Regions from separate parts of the Homo sapiens genome. Here region 2 is linked to region 1. The links come from fine-mapping of genetic effects on gene expression. A gene starts in region 1. The other region holds a variant in brackets. All regions are shown on one strand. Distances are between the middles of the regions.

What was found. PIP is the estimated chance that this variant, and not a neighbour inherited with it, causes the effect.
Region 2: its variant is fine-mapped to the expression of SLC23A3 in unexposed skin (GTEx, PIP 0.90).

What each region holds. Positions count from the first base shown.
Region 1 is chr2:219,164,676-219,174,571 of GRCh38, reverse strand. SLC23A3 (solute carrier family 23 member 3) reads left to right here and starts at 4,543. Exons shown (of 12, transcript NM_001144889.2): 1 at 4,543-4,749; 2 at 4,894-5,051; 3 at 5,166-5,263; 4 at 5,470-5,543; 5 at 5,739-5,920; 6 at 6,254-6,377; 7 at 6,528-6,642; 8 at 9,150-9,403. The coding sequence starts at 4,588. It overlaps CNPPD1 (cyclin Pas1/PHO80 domain containing 1), which reads left to right. Exons shown (of 8, transcript NM_015680.6): 6 at 365-426; 7 at 1,105-1,222; 8 at 1,444-2,675. The coding sequence ends at 1,986. RefSeq lists enhancers at 2,997-3,046, 3,097-3,256.
Region 2 is chr2:219,191,186-219,200,001 of GRCh38, reverse strand. No RefSeq gene overlaps it. Among named protein-coding and RNA genes, the nearest start is that of ZFAND2B, 11 kb to the left of the region's middle. The variant A/G (reference allele first, on the strand shown) is at 3,123.

The DNA.
Region 1 (9,896 bases):
TTCCTCGCCTCCTCTATTCCTCCAGGGCCCCACAGGGTACACTCTGAGTCAGAGTTTATCCTATTGGGTTCTGAATATTTGTGTCCATACTTTCTCTGCCCCTAGATGTTTAGCTCCCTGTGGACACAGACCATTCTCAGGGTCATTTTCTCCCCTCTTGCTTAGTGGAGAGTATAATGTGAAACCAGGCAGGTGGTGATTCAATGAGTTAATGTGTAAAAACTTTTGAGACAGTATCTGGCACATGGTAAGTGCCAAATATGCATTAGCCATAGGGGCGGTTGTAGTTGCTGCTATGGCTCTTATTATTAAATGACTGTGGCTCATCCAAGTCTGGTTTGATGTCCACTCTCCGTACTCACAGGATTGGCATCTCTACACTGACCCTCGGGAGATCTTTGAGGTGCTGAGCTGGTTGGAGAGCTGGTAGGTTCTAGGAGTTGGGAAGAAGGGCTCGAGGGATTTGGGGGCTGAGTCCTCAGCCATAGGAGCTAGAGATGAGAGTCTGTGTAACTGGGGGAGGGAGGAGACAAGAAAGAGAATTGCCCAGATAGTGGTTCCCAGACCCATCTGTCCTCTTCTTCATCACCTTTGGGAAGGTGAGAAGCAGCTTATTTAAAATACATGTATTGGGTGGGTATGGTAGTTATGTCTATAATCCTAGCACTCTGGGAGGGTGAGGCTGGAGGATTACTTGGGTCCAGGAGTTCGAGACCAGCCTGGGCAATATAGCAAGATGCCTGACCCTACCAGAAAAAAATACTAGCCAGATGCAGTGGTGTACACCCATAATCCCAGCTACTCAGGAGGCTGAGACAAGAGGATCATTTGAGTCCAGGATGTTGAGTCTGCAGTGAGCTATGATTGCACTACTGCACTCCAGCCTGGGAGACAGCAAGATCCTGTCTTAACAAAATAAATAAATAAAAATAAATAAAATATAGGTCTTGGTCTCACCCTTAGTTTCTAGATCAGCAGATAGCCTAGGAATCTGGGTTTAACAGGCTTCCCAGTGTTTCCTGGTGGGTCCTGAGTGGTATGAGGGTGCCACTGGGCTGGCTGCAGGACAGTTGCATACTCTTGTCATTTCTCCACTTCCCCCAGTGTGGCTGAGCAGCAGGGACGGTGGCGAGGCTGGTACACCTACACAGACCTGTGTGTGCTGCTGGAGCAGCCGACCTGGCAGTTGGCCCTGGGCTCCCTCTGCCAGCGGCTGGTAAAGGTGAGGAGGGGCTCGGAAGGATAGGGAGCTTGAGCAGGCCGGTGTGTAGGGTGGGATGGTGTGAAGTGATTGCTGAAAAGCCCAGGAGATGGGGTTGGGAATAGATGGGCAGAGTGGGGTGTAAATGGCTATAGAGACCTCCAACTGGAACACAGATTTCTAGAGACAAGGGGTGAATGTGTTAAAGACAGATTCCTTCTTTCTTATCTCCTCTCCTGCAGCTGTCTTGCCTGTTAGCTGTGGCATATGTGAGCAGTGTGGCCCTGGCTGTGGCATCGGTGGCCGTAATACATCAGTCTTTGGGGCTGTCCTGCATCCCTACACCTGGGCCGCCTGACCTTGGACTGACCTCCCGTTGCCTCCTGGAGCCCTGCATACCTTCTGTGCCACAATGCCTGCCGTCTCTCGCTAATGTCTCCAGCTGCCTGGAAGGCAGCATGGGGCTGCGGTCACTCTGGGGCAGTCTTCTGGCCTCACTGACTCCTCCACCATTGCCTCCCCCAGACCCCCCTGCCCCTCCCACTCTTCTTCATAACTGCCACCTTTGCCAGAAGCTCCAGAGAGACTCCCCAACCTGCCATGCCTGCCTCCACCCCAACCGTACAGTCCCCACTGCGCTGTCCAGCCCCTGGTACCATACCTATGGCCTGGCTCCCCCCTGGCCTTGGAGCCCGGTGCTCCTTTCACTTCCTCAGCCTCAGCAATGTTCCCTTTTCAGTGTCATGGAGCTGGCTCGCCTCAAGTCTTTCGTTTTCCCAGGCTAGGTAGGGCTGTGAGGAATGCATTAAGAGGGTTTGGGAGTTTCTGAGAACCTGGAGGAGCAAAGCTTGATTCAGATCCTGTCTGCCTCGCTGGGTCCTTGGCAGGTCCCCTGTCCTCCTGGGTGGGAGCTTATGGGGTGGTGGGGCAGAAGGACTGAAGGTAATTCACTCCTAGATCGCAGTGGCTGGCTGCTTGGCCAGGACAGTGATGCCGCCAGGGAGAGCTTCCGCTTGGTGACCAGGGACATGTCCCAGATGGACATAGAAGCCCCTCTCTGCCTCCCTGGGATTTTTTAGACTTTTACTTTTGATTTCCCTAGGATGGAAGAGTATAGGTGGGAGATAAGGGAAGTGGGGTGAGAGGAGAAAGGAAATGTTGGCATGGGCCTGTGTGATGTCCCTGAGGCAGAAGAGCCGGGGACTGATGGGTTCAGGTGGGAGCTGCTGGGTGAGGCAGGGAACCCTTTTCACTCCCATTCCTTAGCTTTAGTCTAATGGAGCCAAGGACTGCTGGGACCTTCAACCCTGATCTTTTGTCTTCCAGTCTTCTCTTAGTGTCCTGCTCCTAGGTTTCCCTCTCTTCTGGTTCTTCTCCCAGGTATTCTCTTCCCAGGCCTCTCTGGCCACTGCTTTGTATCAGGGTTTTTCACGCTTTTGTAGAACTGAGGTTTCAATAAACAGTTTCAGTTGCATGGCCTGGACTTTTCCTTCTGCGGCAGCCCTTGAAGATTTTTCCTCCCTGTATCTGCCTTCCAAGCCTCCCTGCTTCCTGATCCTGTCATCTCACAAACTGTTTTCTCAGCCTCATCTCAGGACTTTCCTATCGTTTGATAGGCATAGGCTTCCATTTCCAACTTTGTTCCTGCTCCCAGGACCCTGGGCCCTAGCACTGCTCAACTTGGGATGCCATGGGACACACATGGTGACTGTCCTGTCCCTGAGTTGGCCTTGTCTGTCACTTGTTCTGGGTAAGCACTCTCCTTGTGGATCCCAAAGCACATCTCGTGGAGAGGGGCCAGGCCTTGTAACCAGCAGAGCCTTGTGAGCTCCTGAGGGCAAGCCACGAGGACGCTTCTCTCTCCTGACCTCCTCACTGGTCTGACACATGGTGATGGTCACATGGTGCTTAACAATTCCAAGAACTTGAAGAACTCCAAGGCTGGGTCATCACTGGAGGAAGGAAAACAGTCTGGGCAGCTTGGCTGAGGGTATTTGGGACTGCTGAGGATACTTCACGGAAGAAGTGGTTCTGCCCCCTAGGGGGCATTTTGGAAATTTATGGGCTATTTTTTCATTGTCAAAAGGATTCAAGGGGATGGGGTGCTACTGGCATTTCGTCAACCTGGGCGGGATGCTAGACATCATGAAATGCTCAGACCTCCCGTACTGTGAAGAATTCCCAAGACAACTTTTGAATGACCAGCTTTATGTATATGAAAACCCTGTTTATCTGAGCCTAGAACTGTCTTTGCACATGTAAACGTGAAATAGCGTTTGTGCGTTTTGAAAAGACTCAGTTTGCTAGGAATTCATTCCCATGTAAATTAAGACGACTTTATTTTGCTTGGCACCTTAACCAAGAGTTTGTTTGCCATTTTGAAAATCGGGTTACCAACATCAGAGTCACCGATAAAGCACCAATATCAGCTGGCATTGCAGCTATTGCAACCACAGCAATTCTCATAGGGTGTGGGATTGGACTACTTCATTGTACTTTATTGTCTTCTGGTTTAGTTGTGCTTAAGCCTTCACGTAATGAAATACATGTTATTATAAATTTTATTCTTTACAGTGAGCATGTTTCAGGTAGTTGTGGTTGTCACATGTGATGTAGGATATATTGTCCACAAGTTTCTTTTTTTCTTTTTTCTTTTTTTTTTTGACACAGTCTCACTCTGTCACCCAGGCTGGAGTGCAGTGGCACGGTCTCAGCTCACTACAACCTCCGCCTTCTGGGTTCGAGCAATTCTTGTGCCTCAGCCTCCCGAGTAGGTGGGATTACAGGGATGTGCCACCACATCCAGCTAAGTTTTGTATTTTTAGTAGAGATGGTTTCACCATGTTGCCAGGCTGGTCTTGAACTCCTCACCTCAAGTGATACACCCAGTTCGGCCTCCCAAAGTGGTGTGATTACAGGCATGAGCCACCATACTGAGCCCACAAGTTTCATTTTGAAGTAGTCCAGGGGCCTTGGTTCTGAAAGGGGTGAGGACTGTGGATCAAATAGTGATAGTTTTAAATGGGAGGGAATAAAGTCTGCAAAATTTCCCCATATTATTTTGAAGAGCTCCTCTCCTCCCCACCCCTCCTATCCTACTTTCTACAGCCTGGTCTAGGGGCAGGAAATCTGGAAGAAGATTCTCGGGGGAGGGCCCCAGAACTCAGCTCCCCAGTTAATGGCTGATGGAATTTGCACAACAGCTGGGCAAAGGTGAAAGGGTGGTGCCCTGCCCCAAATTCCTTATACCTTTGCTCCGCTTCATTGACACCCCCACCCTCTCCCCACCTTCTCCCCACCCCAGGCTTCACCCAAACTCTGACCTCTTACTCTCTCTACTTAACTCTGGTCCCGGGCAGCCAAGACAAAGCGAAAGGCAAGGCAGCATGAGCCGATCACCCCTCAATCCCAGCCAACTCCGATCAGTGGGCTCCCAGGATGCCCTGGCCCCCTTGCCTCCACCTGCTCCCCAGAATCCCTCCACCCACTCTTGGGACCCTTTGTGTGGATCTCTGCCTTGGGGCCTCAGCTGTCTTCTGGCTCTGCAGGTAGGAGGCAGAGGTGCAGGAGTTGGTGCTGCCTGATGGTGTGTGTGGGGAAGTAGGTGTAGATGTGGCATGTGAAAGCCTCTGGAAGTATTGTAGGTATTTCCACTTCTCTGAAGACTGCCCTCCCCATTCCTCCACCTGCAGCATGTCTTGGTCATGGCTTCTCTGCTCTGTGTCTCCCACCTGCTCCTGCTTTGCAGTCTCTCCCCAGGAGGACTCTCTTACTCCCCTTCTCAGCTCCTGGCCTCCAGCTTCTTTTCATGTGGTATGTCTACCATCCTGCAAACTTGGATGGGCAGCAGGTGAGAGGAACCTCCCTGGAGAGAGGGGCAGAGTCCTGGAGGGTAGGAGAGGTTTGGGGGAGCCTTGCTGGCTGCCACATAGTCCCAGACCTGCTGGGGCTGCTGTTCCTACAGGCTGCCTCTTGTCCAGGCTCCATCCTTAGAGTTCCTTATCCCTGCTCTGGTGCTGACCAGCCAGAAGCTACCCCGGGCCATCCAGACACCTGGAAACTGTGAGCACAGAGCAAGGGCAAGGGGTAAGGGTGGGGCTGGGTTCTCATCTGAGCATGCAGGTGTAGGTGGGTGCAGAATTGAGATTGGGCAGTGGTGAGACTGTGACACTATAGGGGGCTTGGACCTGTGCCAGGAGTGGGACTGTAGAGCAATGGGTCTCCATTCCATTCACCCTTCTCTTCTCCATGCCCCAAACTTTTCCTAGCCTCCCTCATGCTGCACCTTTGTAGGGGACCTAGCTGCCATGGCCTGGGGCACTGGAACACTTCTCTCCAGGAGGTGGGTATCTGGAGGTGAGAAGGGATAAGGGTGGTGCCAGGCTTGGGGGGGGCTCTTGTTTCCATTATGCACAGACTGAGATGCTCCTGGAAAGGAGTTTTGGGAGGAACCCATACTTAGAATTAGGAAGACCAGGCTGAGGCCAGTTTGATTGAGCAGAATGTTTTCTCTCCATCCTCTCCTCTCTTCTACCAGGTGTCCGGGGCAGTGGTAGTATCTGGGCTGCTGCAGGGCATGATGGGGCTGCTGGGGAGTCCCGGCCACGTGTTCCCCCACTGTGGGCCCCTGGTGCTGGCTCCCAGCCTGGTTGTGGCAGGGCTCTCTGCCCACAGGGAGGTAGCCCAGTTCTGCTTCACACACTGGGGGTTGGCCTTGCTGTACGTGAGTCCTGAGAGGCGTGGGATGGTGCCCAGTGGGGGTGTATGGGGGGACTAGGGGAGGGCAGAACTGCTGGTCCTATCAGATTCAGCAGCGACTGGAATAGGGACATATTTTATATTTGGAATCCAAGACTTTTCCTTGATTCATCTGGTCTCCTTGAATTTCACACTGTTTTCTGCTGTCCCCCAAGGTCACTTCCTATTCCTTCCATGGGAGTTTCCTTCTCTGGTATCACCCCCCGCTCTTATGATATTCTGCCCACTCCCACCTCCTTTCCCATCCCTCAGGATACCCACTGCCTCTTGCTCCTAAAGCCTTCTGTCTCCTAGGGTTATCCTGCTCATGGTGGTCTGTTCTCAGCACCTGGGCTCCTGCCAGTTTCATGTGTGCCCCTGGAGGCGAGCTTCAACGTCATCAACTCACACTCCTCTCCCTGTCTTCCGGCTCCTTTCGGTATGTGTGGGTCTGGGCAGGGCAGTAGAGGTCAGAAGGGCTGGCCTGGAGTGCTCACTCCATCCCCTACCTTTTGGCTTCTGTCTACCCCTGCAAGGCTGGCTCAGAAGGTTCTGGGGGAGGAGTTCTTTTCTCAGTCTCGCCCCTCAGGTGCTGATCCCAGTGGCCTGTGTGTGGATTGTTTCTGCCTTTGTGGGATTCAGTGTTATCCCCCAGGAACTGTCTGCCCCCACCAAGGCACCATGGATTTGGCTGCCTCACCCAGGTAGGTTTTCTCCTAGTCCTCCATTCTCTTGTTCAAATAAAGGTATCTATTTGAACTCAAAGAACTTAATGGATTTTATTTCTGAGTTAAATCCTGTGTTTTTTGAAAACATATAGGAGAGAGAAATTATCAGTCTGAGAGACAGACAATGCTAGCCCCTCACTGTAGGTGTTTTTTTGTTTGTTTGTTTGAGACAGGGTCTCACTCTGTCATACAGGGTGGAGTGCATGGCGTGATCATGGCTCACGCAACCTCAACCTCCCAGGCCCAGGTGATCCTCCCACCTAAGCCTCCGGAGTAGCTGGGACTACAGGTGTGCTTTTTTTTTTTTTTTTTTTTTTGTAGAGACAGGGTTTCACCATGTTGCCCAGGCTGGTCTCAAACTCCTGGGCTCAAGTGATCTGCTTGATTAAATGCTGGGATTACAGGCATGAGCCACTGTGCCCCATCCCACTGCAGGTGTTTTATTTGGGTCAGTGTTAGGAGACAGACATCTGTTGTTTCTGTAACCCCCGATACTCACTACCAATACTCCTTACCCAATGAACACATTTATGTTACCAGCCCCTATGGGCATTTGACTTGGCAACCTATGTATAAAGATTGCTTTTGAGGCATTGTATGTGAAATTTGCTCATTCTTCAATTTATTTATTTATTTAATTTACTTTTTGGGACAGGGTCTTGCTGTGTTACCCAGGCTGAGAGCATTGATGCAAACATGGCTCACTGCAGCCTCAACCTCCTTGGCTCAAGCTATCCTTGTGCCTCAGCCCCACAAGTAGCTGGGATTACAAGCGTGCACCACCATGCCTGGCTAATTTTTGTGTTGTTTTGTAGAGACGGGATTTCGCCATGTTGTCCAGGCTGGTTGTTCATTAATTTAATAAGGATCTGTTGACTGCTGATTATGTGCTAGGCACATGGTAGAGGACATAGTGATGAACATGACAGAAACAGTACTTGCCTTCAGGGAGCTTACAGTCTATTGGGGAATACAGATACTAATTAAAGAGTCACCCGAGGAAATATAAAATTGCCATTGTGGGAAGTGTAACCAAAGGGAGATACATTGTGTCCTAAGAGCTTATAATGGAGGCCAGGCACAGTGGCTCACACCTATAATCCCAGCACTTTGGGAGGCAGAAGCAGGAAGACTGCTTGAGGCAAGGATTTCGAGAGCAGCCTGGGTAATAAAGCAAGACTCCACTCTACAAAACATAAAAAAATTAGCTGGGCCTAGTGGCACATGCTTGTAGGCCTAGCTACTCAGGAGACTGAGGCAGGAGGATCACTTGAGCCCAGGAGTTGGAGGCTGCGGTGTGCTATGATTGCACCACTGCATTCTAGCCCAGGCGACAGAGTGAGACCTTGTTTATAAAAATAAAATAAAATAAATTAAAATAAAATAAATAAAATAAAATAAAATAAAATAGCCAGGCACCATGGCTCACACCTGAAATTCCAGCACTTTGGGAGGCTGAGGTGGGAGGATTGCTTGAGCTCAGGAGTTAGAGACCAGCCTGGGCAACATAGTGAGACCTCGTCTCTATTAACAGTATAAAAAATTAGCCAGATATGGTGGCATGCACCTTTAGTCCCAGTTACTTCAGAGGCTAAGGTGGGAGGATCGCTTGAGCCCGAGAGATTGAGGCTGCAGTGAGCTATGATTGCATTACTGCACTTCAGCCTGGGTAACAGAGCAAGGACCTGTCTCAAAACAAACAAACAAACCAAAAAACTTATAATAGGGAATTTGAATTTATCAGGGAGGTCAGTAAATTTTTTTTTTTTTTTTGAAATGGAGTTTCACTCTTGTCGCCCAGGCTGGAGTGCAATGGTGTGATCTTGGCTAACTGCACCTCCGCCTTCCGGGTTCAAGTGATTCTCCTGCTTCCACCTCCCAAGTGGCTGGGATTACAGGCATGCACCACCATGCCTGGCTAATTTTGTATTTTTAGTAGAGATGGGGTTTCACCATGTTGGCCAGGCTGGTCACAAACTCCTGACCTCAGGTGAGCCACCTGCCTTGGCCTCCCAAAGTGCTGGGATTACAGGCGTGAGCTACTGCACCCCGCCTAAGTAAGGATATTCTTGAGGATGTGGCCACTGAGTTGAGATGGAAGAGATGAGTAGGAGCTAACTAGACAAAGGCAGGAGGGAAGCGCATTCTAGTTGCAGGAAACTGCATATGCAAAGGCCCTGTGGTGGCTGGGAGCACAGCATGTACAAAGGCCTACAACAAGGCCAGTGTGGCAGGAATGAAGGAAGTGAGGCAGAGTGTGCTGGGAGATAAGGCTGCAGAGAGAGGGAAGGGCCAGACCAAAGAGGACCTTGTAGACCATGGTAAAGGCATGGGTCTTTCTCCTTAGAGTTCAGTAGTTTTGTCCCAAGACATTGTCTTCAAAGACATTGAGGCATCTAGGATTCTTGTGGCACAGGCTGTTGGAGGCAGGGGGTACTCCTGACTTGAGTCTGGCCCCAAAGTGGCTTCTTCTCCCTCCCCAGGTGAGTGGAATTGGCCTTTGCTGACGCCCAGAGCTCTGGCTGCAGGCATCTCCATGGCCTTGGCAGCCTCCACCAGTTCCCTGGGCTGCTATGCCCTGTGTGGCCGGCTGCTGCATTTGCCTCCCCCACCTCCACATGCCTGCAGTCGAGGGCTGAGCCTGGAGGGGCTGGGCAGTGTGCTGGCCGGGCTGCTGGGAAGCCCCATGGGCACTGCATCCAGCTTCCCCAACGTGGGCAAAGTGGGTCTTATCCAGGTACGTGGACCTGGGATGGGAGTGGGGTAGGATGGAGCTAGAGGGGAAGAAGAAGGACAGGAACTTACACCGATTGATTGCCAGGTGTGCCTAGCACCTCACATCAACTATCTTACTTGGGGAGGTGCCTAAGATTAGACTTTGGGCTAAGAGAGTGGGGAAGTGAACAAATCACCACGGAACTCCTGTGCATGAGGCACTGTATCAAGGCTAGGGCAAAGAACCAGTCACATAAAGTTCTGCTCTCTTGGGGACTTCATAGAGGGAGAGGCAGACAGTTGAAGGAAAAAAGTATCTTTTTAAAAAAGTGGGCCAGGCATGGTGGCTCACACCTGTAATCCTAGCACGTGGGGAGGCTGAGGCAGGCAGATCACTTAGGCTAGGAATTCAAGACCAGCCTGGCCAACATGGTGAAACCCTGTCTCTACTAAAAATACAAAAATTAGCTGGGCATGGTGTTGTGCACCTATAATTCCAGCTACTCAGGAGGCTG
Region 2 (8,816 bases), 26 kb before region 1:
TGCTAAATACCAACTGGAGTTGTCAGGTCTTAGATGCAGCAACTAGTTCAAAGTGAGAAGGACCGAATACAGTGGCTTTCCAAGTTTTTCAGCTTTGACCTACGGTAAGAAATATATCTTACATCTCCTCCCAATGTATATAAATATAAAATCAATGTTGTTTAAGCTGCACCGAATTGATTGCACAGCCCACTAATTTCATAACTCCACGTTTGAAACCGATGCTCTAATGGGAAGGTGCAGGACACGGAAATGGGAGCCAGTAATGGCCAAGAGTGAGGCTGGGGAGGCACAGTGAGAGTGCTTCAGGCAGACAAGATGCCAAATGCACTCTAGCCAGAGGCGGGGCCTGGGGAGAGCAGCACAAAGGTTATGGATGACCTTCAAGTAGAGCTCAGAGGAGTCTGAGGGTGCAAGAGGTGAGAGGTGAAAGAGACTCTGCTAAATGTGGTAAAATGAATGCATGTGATTTTATGTTTGCTTCCTTCCCAAACCCCACCAAAATAACAGTAAAACAATAAGGAGAACAGAAGCGAAAACAATACATGAAGATATGACAAAAACATTTTGGGAGCTAAACATCTGATGGAAGAAGGAAAACTGACTAGGGTCCGAGGAAGTTGAAACGGTGGGAACAACAAGCGGCAGGCCAGTGTTGACTTCGTTGCCGCTGAAAGGCTTGGGACTGGGAGCATCAAGCTTTCCAAAGGTAGGGGTGGAAGGAGGGGGCTGGAAATGAAGGGTGAGTTTAAACTCGACATAAGGAGCAGTTAGACCCTCATGTTCCCTCCTCCAGCCTGGGCAGCTGGGTGACTGCCCCTCTCCCACTGCCCCCCCAGAAAAGGCAGGAGGTATCTGGGTTCTCTGGAGAGAATGAAGCAATGGGTCCCTGGGCTTCAGGTTGTCAGCCAGCTGAGGGTGAAGAGGGAGAGAAACTGCAGCTATTTTCTCCTGACTCTAGAGCACTAGCAGCCAGGTTCATGGTCCCCAGGCCAGAGGCTGCAGGGTTCTTCTCTGGAAGAACCGAGCAGCCTAAAAATTCTCTGGGCATTGAGGGATCTCAACACAATGGTTGTCTCTGCCACCTCACCCTGCAGGGAAGATGCAAATCTTCGAATTTTAGAGAGCATTCAGTTGGCCTTTAAGTGCCTCTGCTCAGATATGAAGGAGCAAACCAGGGTTTGAGGGAAGTCTCTTCCATGAAAGACAGAAGCCAAAATAAAGACATAAATGGTGGTGAGGAGGAAAACAAGTACAATGCAGGGAATGTAAAAATATAATTTATATAACTAGACTACTAATAATATAATAATATAACTTATTAAGAATGCTCAGGGCTGGGGGCAGTGGCTCACGCCTGTAATCCCAACACTTTGGGAGACTGAGGTGGGCAGATCACCTGAGGTCAGGAGTTCGAGACCAGCCTGGCCAACATGGTAAAACCCTGTCTCTACGAAAAATACAACAATTAGCTGGTGTGGTGGTGGGTGCCCATAGTCCCAGCTACTTGGGAGGCTGAGGCAGGAGAATCGCTTGAACCCAGGAGGCAGAGGTTGCAGTGAGCCAAGATGGCGCCACTACACTCCAGCCTGGGCAACAGAGTGAGACTCTGTCTCAAAAAAAAAAAAAAAAAAAAAAAAAGAGAATGATTAGGCCAGGCGTGGTGGCTCACGCCTGTAATTCCAGCACCTTGGGAGGCCAAGGCAGTTGGATCACTTGAGGTCAGGAGTTTGAGACCAGACTGGCCAACATGGCGAAACCCTGTCTCTACTAAAAATACAAAAATTAGCTGGGCTTGGTAGCAGGCGCCTGTAATCCCAGCTACTCGGGAGACTGAGGCAGGAGAATCACTTGAACCCGGGAGGCAGAGGTTACAGTGAGCTGAGATAGTGCCACTGCACTCCAGCCTAGGCGACAGAGTAAGACTCTGTCTCAAAAAAAAAAAAAAAAGAAAATGATTAATATTAATACAGTGTACTCAGGAAGCAGATTTTTTTTTTTTTTGAGATGGAGTTTTACTCTTGTTGCCCAGGCTGGAGTGCAGTGGCACGATCTCGGCTCACCACAACCTCCACCTCCCAGGTGCAAGCGATTCTCCTGCCTCAGCCTCCCTAGTAGCTGGGATTACAGGCATGCACCACCATGCCCGACTGATTTTGTATTTTCAGTAGAGACGGGGTTTCTCCATGTTGGTCAGGCTGGTCTCGAACTCCCGACCTCAGGTGATCCACCCGCCTTGGCCTTCCAAAGTGCTGGGATTACAGGTGTGAGCCACTGTGCCCAGCTCAGGGAGCAGATTTTTCATTTAACACACAGGAGCAAAAAAACATAAAAAGGGATATTCAAGCCAGGTGTAATGGTGTGTACCTGTAATCCCAGCTACACAGGAGGCTGAAGCAAGAGGTTTGCTCAAGCCCAGGAGTTGGAGTCCAGATTGAGCAACATAGTGAAATTCTATCTCATAAAATGGGGGGTGGGGAGGACAGGGGGAAGGATATTCAGAAAATAAAGCTCTTAGACATTTTTAAAAATATAATCACAGAAATATAGCACATTCCAAAGAATGGGTACAACATAAAGTTGAGAAAATATAGGAAGTAGAACAAAAAAATGTAAAGGAATGGAAAATAAGCAAAGTAGAATATCAGTCCAGGAGTTTCAAGATTTTATGAACAGGAGTGCCCAAAACAGAAACTGGATGGGAGGAAATTATTTTTCAAAAAGTAGAGGTTAGAAGCTGGGCGCGGTGGCTTACTCCTGTAATCCCAGCACTTTGGGATGCTGAGGTGGGCGGATCATGAGGTCAGGAGATCGAGACCATCCTGGCTAACATGGTGAAACCCGGTCTCTACTAAAAATACAAAAAATTAGCCGGGCGTGGGGGCGGGTGCCTGTAGTCCCAGCTACTCGGGAGGCTTGAGGCGGGAGAATGGCATGAACCCAGGAGGCAGAGCTTGCAGTGAGCCGAGATTGTGCCACTGCACTCCAGCCTGGGCGACAGAGTGAGACTCTGTCTCAAAAAAAAAAAAAAAAAAAAATGAGTCAGCCTTGGTAGTGGACGCCTGTAATCCCAGCTACTTGGGAGGCTGAGGCACGAGGATTGCTTGAACCAGGGAGGCGGA[A/G]GTTGCAGTGAGCCGAGATCCTGCCATTGCACTCCAGCCAGGGCGACGGAGGGAGACTCCGTCTCAGAAAAAAAAAAAAAAAGAAAAAAGAAAAAGAAAAATAGCTGGGCATGGTGGCTCACGCCTGTAATCCCAGCTACTTGGGAGACTGAGGCAGGAGATTGCCTGAACCCAGAGGGCAGAGGTTGCAGTGAGTCAAGATCACACCACTGCACTCCAGCCTGGGCTACAGAGGGAGACTCCATCTCAAAACAAAACAAAACAGGCTGGGTGCGGTGGCTCACGCCTGTAATCTCAGCACTTTGGGAGGCCGAGGCGGGTGGATTACCTGAGGTCAGGAGTTTGAGACCAGCCTGGCCAACACGGAGAAACCCATCTCTACTAAAAATACAAAAATTAGCTGGGCATGGTGACACATGCCTGTAGTCCCAGCTGCTCAGGAGGCTGAGGCAGGAGAATCACTTGAACCTGGGAGGCGGAGATTGCAGTGAGCTGAGATCACACCACTGCACTCCAGCCTGGGCAACAGAGCAAGCCTCCGTCTCAAAAACAAAAACAAAAAAACGCGAAAAAAAACCCTGCACAGTCTGAGGAGTTTGTTAAGATAAGGGAGGCGGCCAGGTGCGGTGGCTCACATCTGTAATCCCAGCACTTTGGGAGGCTAAGGCAGGCAGATCACAAGGTCAGGAGTTCGAGACCTGCCTGGCCAACATGGTGAAACCGTGTCTCTACTAAAAATACAGAAATTAGCCAGGCATGGTGGTAGGCGCCTGTTATCCCAGCTACTCGGGAGGCTGAGGCAGGAGAATCTCTTGAAACTGGAAGGTGGAGGTTGCAGTGAGTCTAGATCGCGCCACTGCACTAGAGCCTGGGCAACAAGAGCAAGACTCTGTCTCAAAGAAAAAAAAAATGGAGAGGCTGTCTGGACCTTCTCCTGAACCCCACCTCCTATCATTTGTTGGGAATCTGTTTTCAAGGAATGCAAGGCTTATTTGTGTTCTGTCTCTTCAAACCTGCTTTCTTGAGTCAGATTCGAGCTCTGTTCCTCAGTTTTACTTCCTGAGAAGCTTCCTGGCTTCTTTTGTTTTCCCTCAGCCAGAATTAGCCTCATCTTCAGGAAAGTTTAGGTGGTCCCTTAACATTAAAACCAAGGTCCTAGTGGCTTTGAATCTTTAATCACAGCCTCTAAGCCCTCTCCTGCCATGGGGCTAGCCACCTCTGCCTTTCAGGGGCCTGCCTTTAGCTTGTCTGAGCTCAGTCTTGAAGAGTGACTCAGGATTGTCCAGGTGAGATGGACAGAAAAGTGGTCCTGACTGAAAGATGCAAATACAAGAGAGGAATGAGAAGGGAGGGTTATAAACACCTGCTGTTCTGGGGTTGGAATATCCCATTAGAGGAAGGAAATGGGGAGAGATATGAAGCTGAACAGCCAGGTAATTTTTGTATTGTTTTGAAATGTGTGTGTATAAACATCTATATTCAGGTGGCAAAAACTAGGGTTCAAACTCACCTCCTGCTTCCAAGTTTAGCAGTTTTCCCATATAACCAGAGGGTACTATCAGTTAGATCAGTGGTGATCCACCAGGGCAATTTTGCCTCCAGGGGATATTTGGGGGGTGGGGAGGTAGGAGGGGGGTGTCTTTTGGCATCAAATGGGTGGCAAGCAAGCGAGGATGATACTAAACATTCTACGTCGCCTGGGCAACATGGCGGGACCCAGGCGCTACAAAAATTTTAAAAATTAGAAAGAATGAATAAGACCTAGTATTTGCTAGCACAACAGAGTGACTATAGTCAAAAATAATTTAATTGTACATTTAAAAATAACTAAAAGAGTATAATTGGATTGTTTGTAACACAAAGGATAAATGCTTGAGGTGATGGATACCCCCATTTGCCCTGGTGTCATTATTACTCATTGCATGCCTGTATCAAAATATCTCATGTACCCCATAAATATATACACCTACAATGTACCCACACACATTAAAAATTAAAAAAAAAATTTTCTAATTAGCTGAGTGTGGTGGCACACAACTGTAGTCCCCATATACTTGGGAGGCTGAAGTGGGAGGATCACTTGAGCCCAGGAGGTTGAGGCTGCAGGTGAGCTGTGTTCATGCCACTGCACTCCAGCCTGGGCAACAAAGTGAGACCCTGTCTCAAAAACAAAAAAACAAAACAAAACAAAAACCCAAAACCAACCAAACAAAAAACATTCTACAATGAATAAGACAGTCAGCCCCACCTACCACCAAATAATAATTATCTGGCTCAAAATGTCAGTAGTACAGTCTTTGAGAAACCCTGATTTAGACGAAATGTAAAACTGGAGCTATTCTGAGTTCAAATCCCAGTGCCAGTAATTACCAGCGGTTAGAAATGGAAAGACCAGTGCACAGTGACTTCACTAGTATTTCAGTATTTATTTTATATAAAATGGTAATTTATTTTTAAAGCAAAATGTTCAACATTAAAAACAAAATGCTTAATACCTTTGAAAGACAAACATTTATGTATATATTTATATATAACTAAATGTAGAAATATGACTTAAATATAATTATTTTAATATAAATCAACAGAAGTAATAACATGTTAAAGTAAAAAATTAAACTCTAATAAAAATGAAAATGTAATCATAAATAATTGAAAATAAAATTATTTGCTCTTTTTATTTTTTTATTTTTTGAGATGGAGTCTCACTCTGTTGCCCAGGCTGGAGTGCAGTGGCGCGATCTCCACTGACCACAACCCCTGCCTCCCGGGTTCAAGCTGGGTTCAAGCAACTCTCCTGCCTCAGCCTTCTGAGTAGCTGGTATTACAAGCACGCACCACCACACCCAGCTAATTTTTGTATTTTTAGTAGAGATGAGGTTTCACCATGTTGGTCAGGCTGGTCTCGAACTCCTAACCTCAAATGATCCACCCACCTCGGCCTCCCAAAGTGCTGGGATTACAGGTGTGAGCCACCATTCCTGGCCTGCTTTATTTAAGACTAGAGATCTCTTGGCCGGGCATGGTGGCTCACACCTGTAATCCCAGCACTTTGGGAGGCCAAGGTGGGTGGATCACGAGGTCAGGAGATCGAGACCATCCTGGCTAATACAGTGAAACCCTGTCTCTACTAAAAATACAAAAAAATAGCCGGGCGTGGTGGCGGGCGCCTGTAGTCCCAGCTATTCGGGAGGCTGAGGAGGGAGAATGGCGGGAACCCGGGAGGCGGAGCTTGCAGTGAGCCACGATGGCACCATTGCGCTCCAGCCTGGGCAACAGAGTGAGACTCTGTCTCAAAAAGAATAGAGATCTCTTAAAATATATAAAGGTGTTACTGTTAAGTTGCAAATGTATTTTTTGTGCAAATTTTGCTAGCTTCTAAAAAGCTCTTTCTGGTGTTATACTACTCAGGAGAATGGTAAAGAGATGGTTATAATTTAACTTCACATAGTTATTTCATTATTTCTTGTTTAAATAATCTCATCTCTTGTTTGGTAACTTTGAGGAGTTTTATTTTTTTTCCTTTTTTTAAAAAAATAGCTCTCATGATCCTGGATGAGATCTTTTTGAACAATTATTTTGTTTCTTTGCATAGATGTGTTTTTTTGTTTTAAATTCTGGTGAGCTCTAGTTTTTTCTTCAAAGGACATATTTTTGGTTTGAATCCATCTTTTCTCAGTTATTTTTTATTTATTTATTTATTTTTTAGAGATCGGGTCTCACTCTGTCACCCATTCTGGAGTGCAATAGCATGATCATGGCTCACTGCAGCCTCAAACTTCTGGGCTCAAGGGATCCTTCTGTCTCAGCCTCCCAAAAAGCTGGGATTACAGGCATGAGCCACCATGCAGAGCCCTATATCCATCTTTTTCAATTTCATTGAATATAGATTGAGATTCTGATGCAGAAAACTCATTTAAAATTTAATGTCCTGTTTCTAAGGTCTACTTGTTTAAAGAGTCTTTGAACTAGAATAACTGTTGTCGCAACAGAAGCTTGTTTTGTCCATTGACATTTTTTTCTCCTTTTGAAGTCTGTGGAATGCAACAATGCTTTCTAAACAAATAAGCCCTTGTGTGTTCAAATTTTTAATGCAGCTATACCTCATTTACAAATGATCTAGAAGTCAGATCTCTTTTTTTAATGCTTAAAGAATTATTTCACTTAGGGCCGGGCGCAGTGGCTCACGCCTGTAATCCCAGCACTTTGGGAGGCCGAGGCAGGTGGAGGTCAGGAGTTCAAGACCAGCCTGACCAACGTAGTGAAACTCCGTCCCTACTAAAAAAATACAAAAATTTGCCAGGCATGGTGGTGTGCACCTATAGTCCCAGCTACTCGGGAGGCTGAGGCAGAAGAATCTCTTGAACCCGGGAGGCGGAGGTAGCAGTGATCCCAGATTGTGCCACTGCACTCCAGCCTGAGTGACAGAGCGATACTCTGTCTCAAAAAAACTAAATAAATAAATAAAAGGAATTATTTCGCCTCAACTAAAGTTCTGTTTTGGTACTTTAAAATATGAGGATATGTGGGAATACCAGAATACTGAAAAACAGTATTGTGATCACAACCAGCTGCGTGACTTTGGCCAAGTCATTTTACCTCAATAAGCCTCCAGTTCCTCATCTATAAAAATCAGTTCCTACATCAATGCGGAGTGATGAAGATTAAATAAAATGATGCATGTAAAGCACTGAATTCTATGACTGACACATACTCAATAATTAACAAATGTATATTATTAGTTGTTTGTGCTTTTTTTTTTTATGAGACAGGGTCTTGCTCTGTTGCCTAGGTTGGAGTGCAGTAGCTCAGTTACGGCTCACTGCAGCCTCAACCTCATGGGCTCAAGCGATCCTCCTGCCTCAGCTTCCAGAGTAGCTGAGATCATAGGCACAAGCACCTCACCTGGCTAATTTTTTAATTATATATATTTTATAGAGATGGGGGGGTGGGTCTCACTATGTTGCCTAGGCTGGTCTTGAACTCTTGGCCTCCCAAAGTGCTGGGATTACAGGCGTAAACCACTGCACCCAGCCTATTTTTATTAAGATGGGGCCTCACTCTGTTACCCAGGCTGGAATGCAGTGGCACGATTATAGCTCACTGTAGCCTCGAATTCCTAGGTTCAAGTGATCCTACCACCTCAGCATGAGCCACCACGCCCGACTTGTTTGTATATTTCTTAGTTATTACTAAATTTGTTCATTTCTCATGTGTTGATAAATTGTATTTTTAATTTTAAAAAATTAGTACATTGTCAGTCCAAATCCTTTGATATAATTTCCAAGTAAATTTTGTGTGGTAGTTTAAAACTATATCTACAATTTCTTTGATACTTCTCCCTTCAAGAGGTGGATTTTTTTTTTTTTTTGAGACGGAGTCTTGCTGTGTCGCCCAGGCTGGAGTGCAGTGGCACGATCTCGGCTCACTGCAACCTCCGCCTCCTAGGTTCAAGCGATTCTTGTGTCTCAGCCTCCTGAGTAGCTGGGATTACAGGCACATGCCACCACACCCAGCTTATTTTTGTATTTTAGTAGAGACAGGGTGTCACCAGGTTGGCCAGGATGGTCTCGAACTCCTGACCTCGTGATCTGCCCACCTCAGCCTCCCAAAGTGCTGGGATTACAGGCGTGAGCCACCACACCCGGCCAACTACCCAGATTCCTAATCCTCAGAAGTAGTGTGAGATAATGTTTG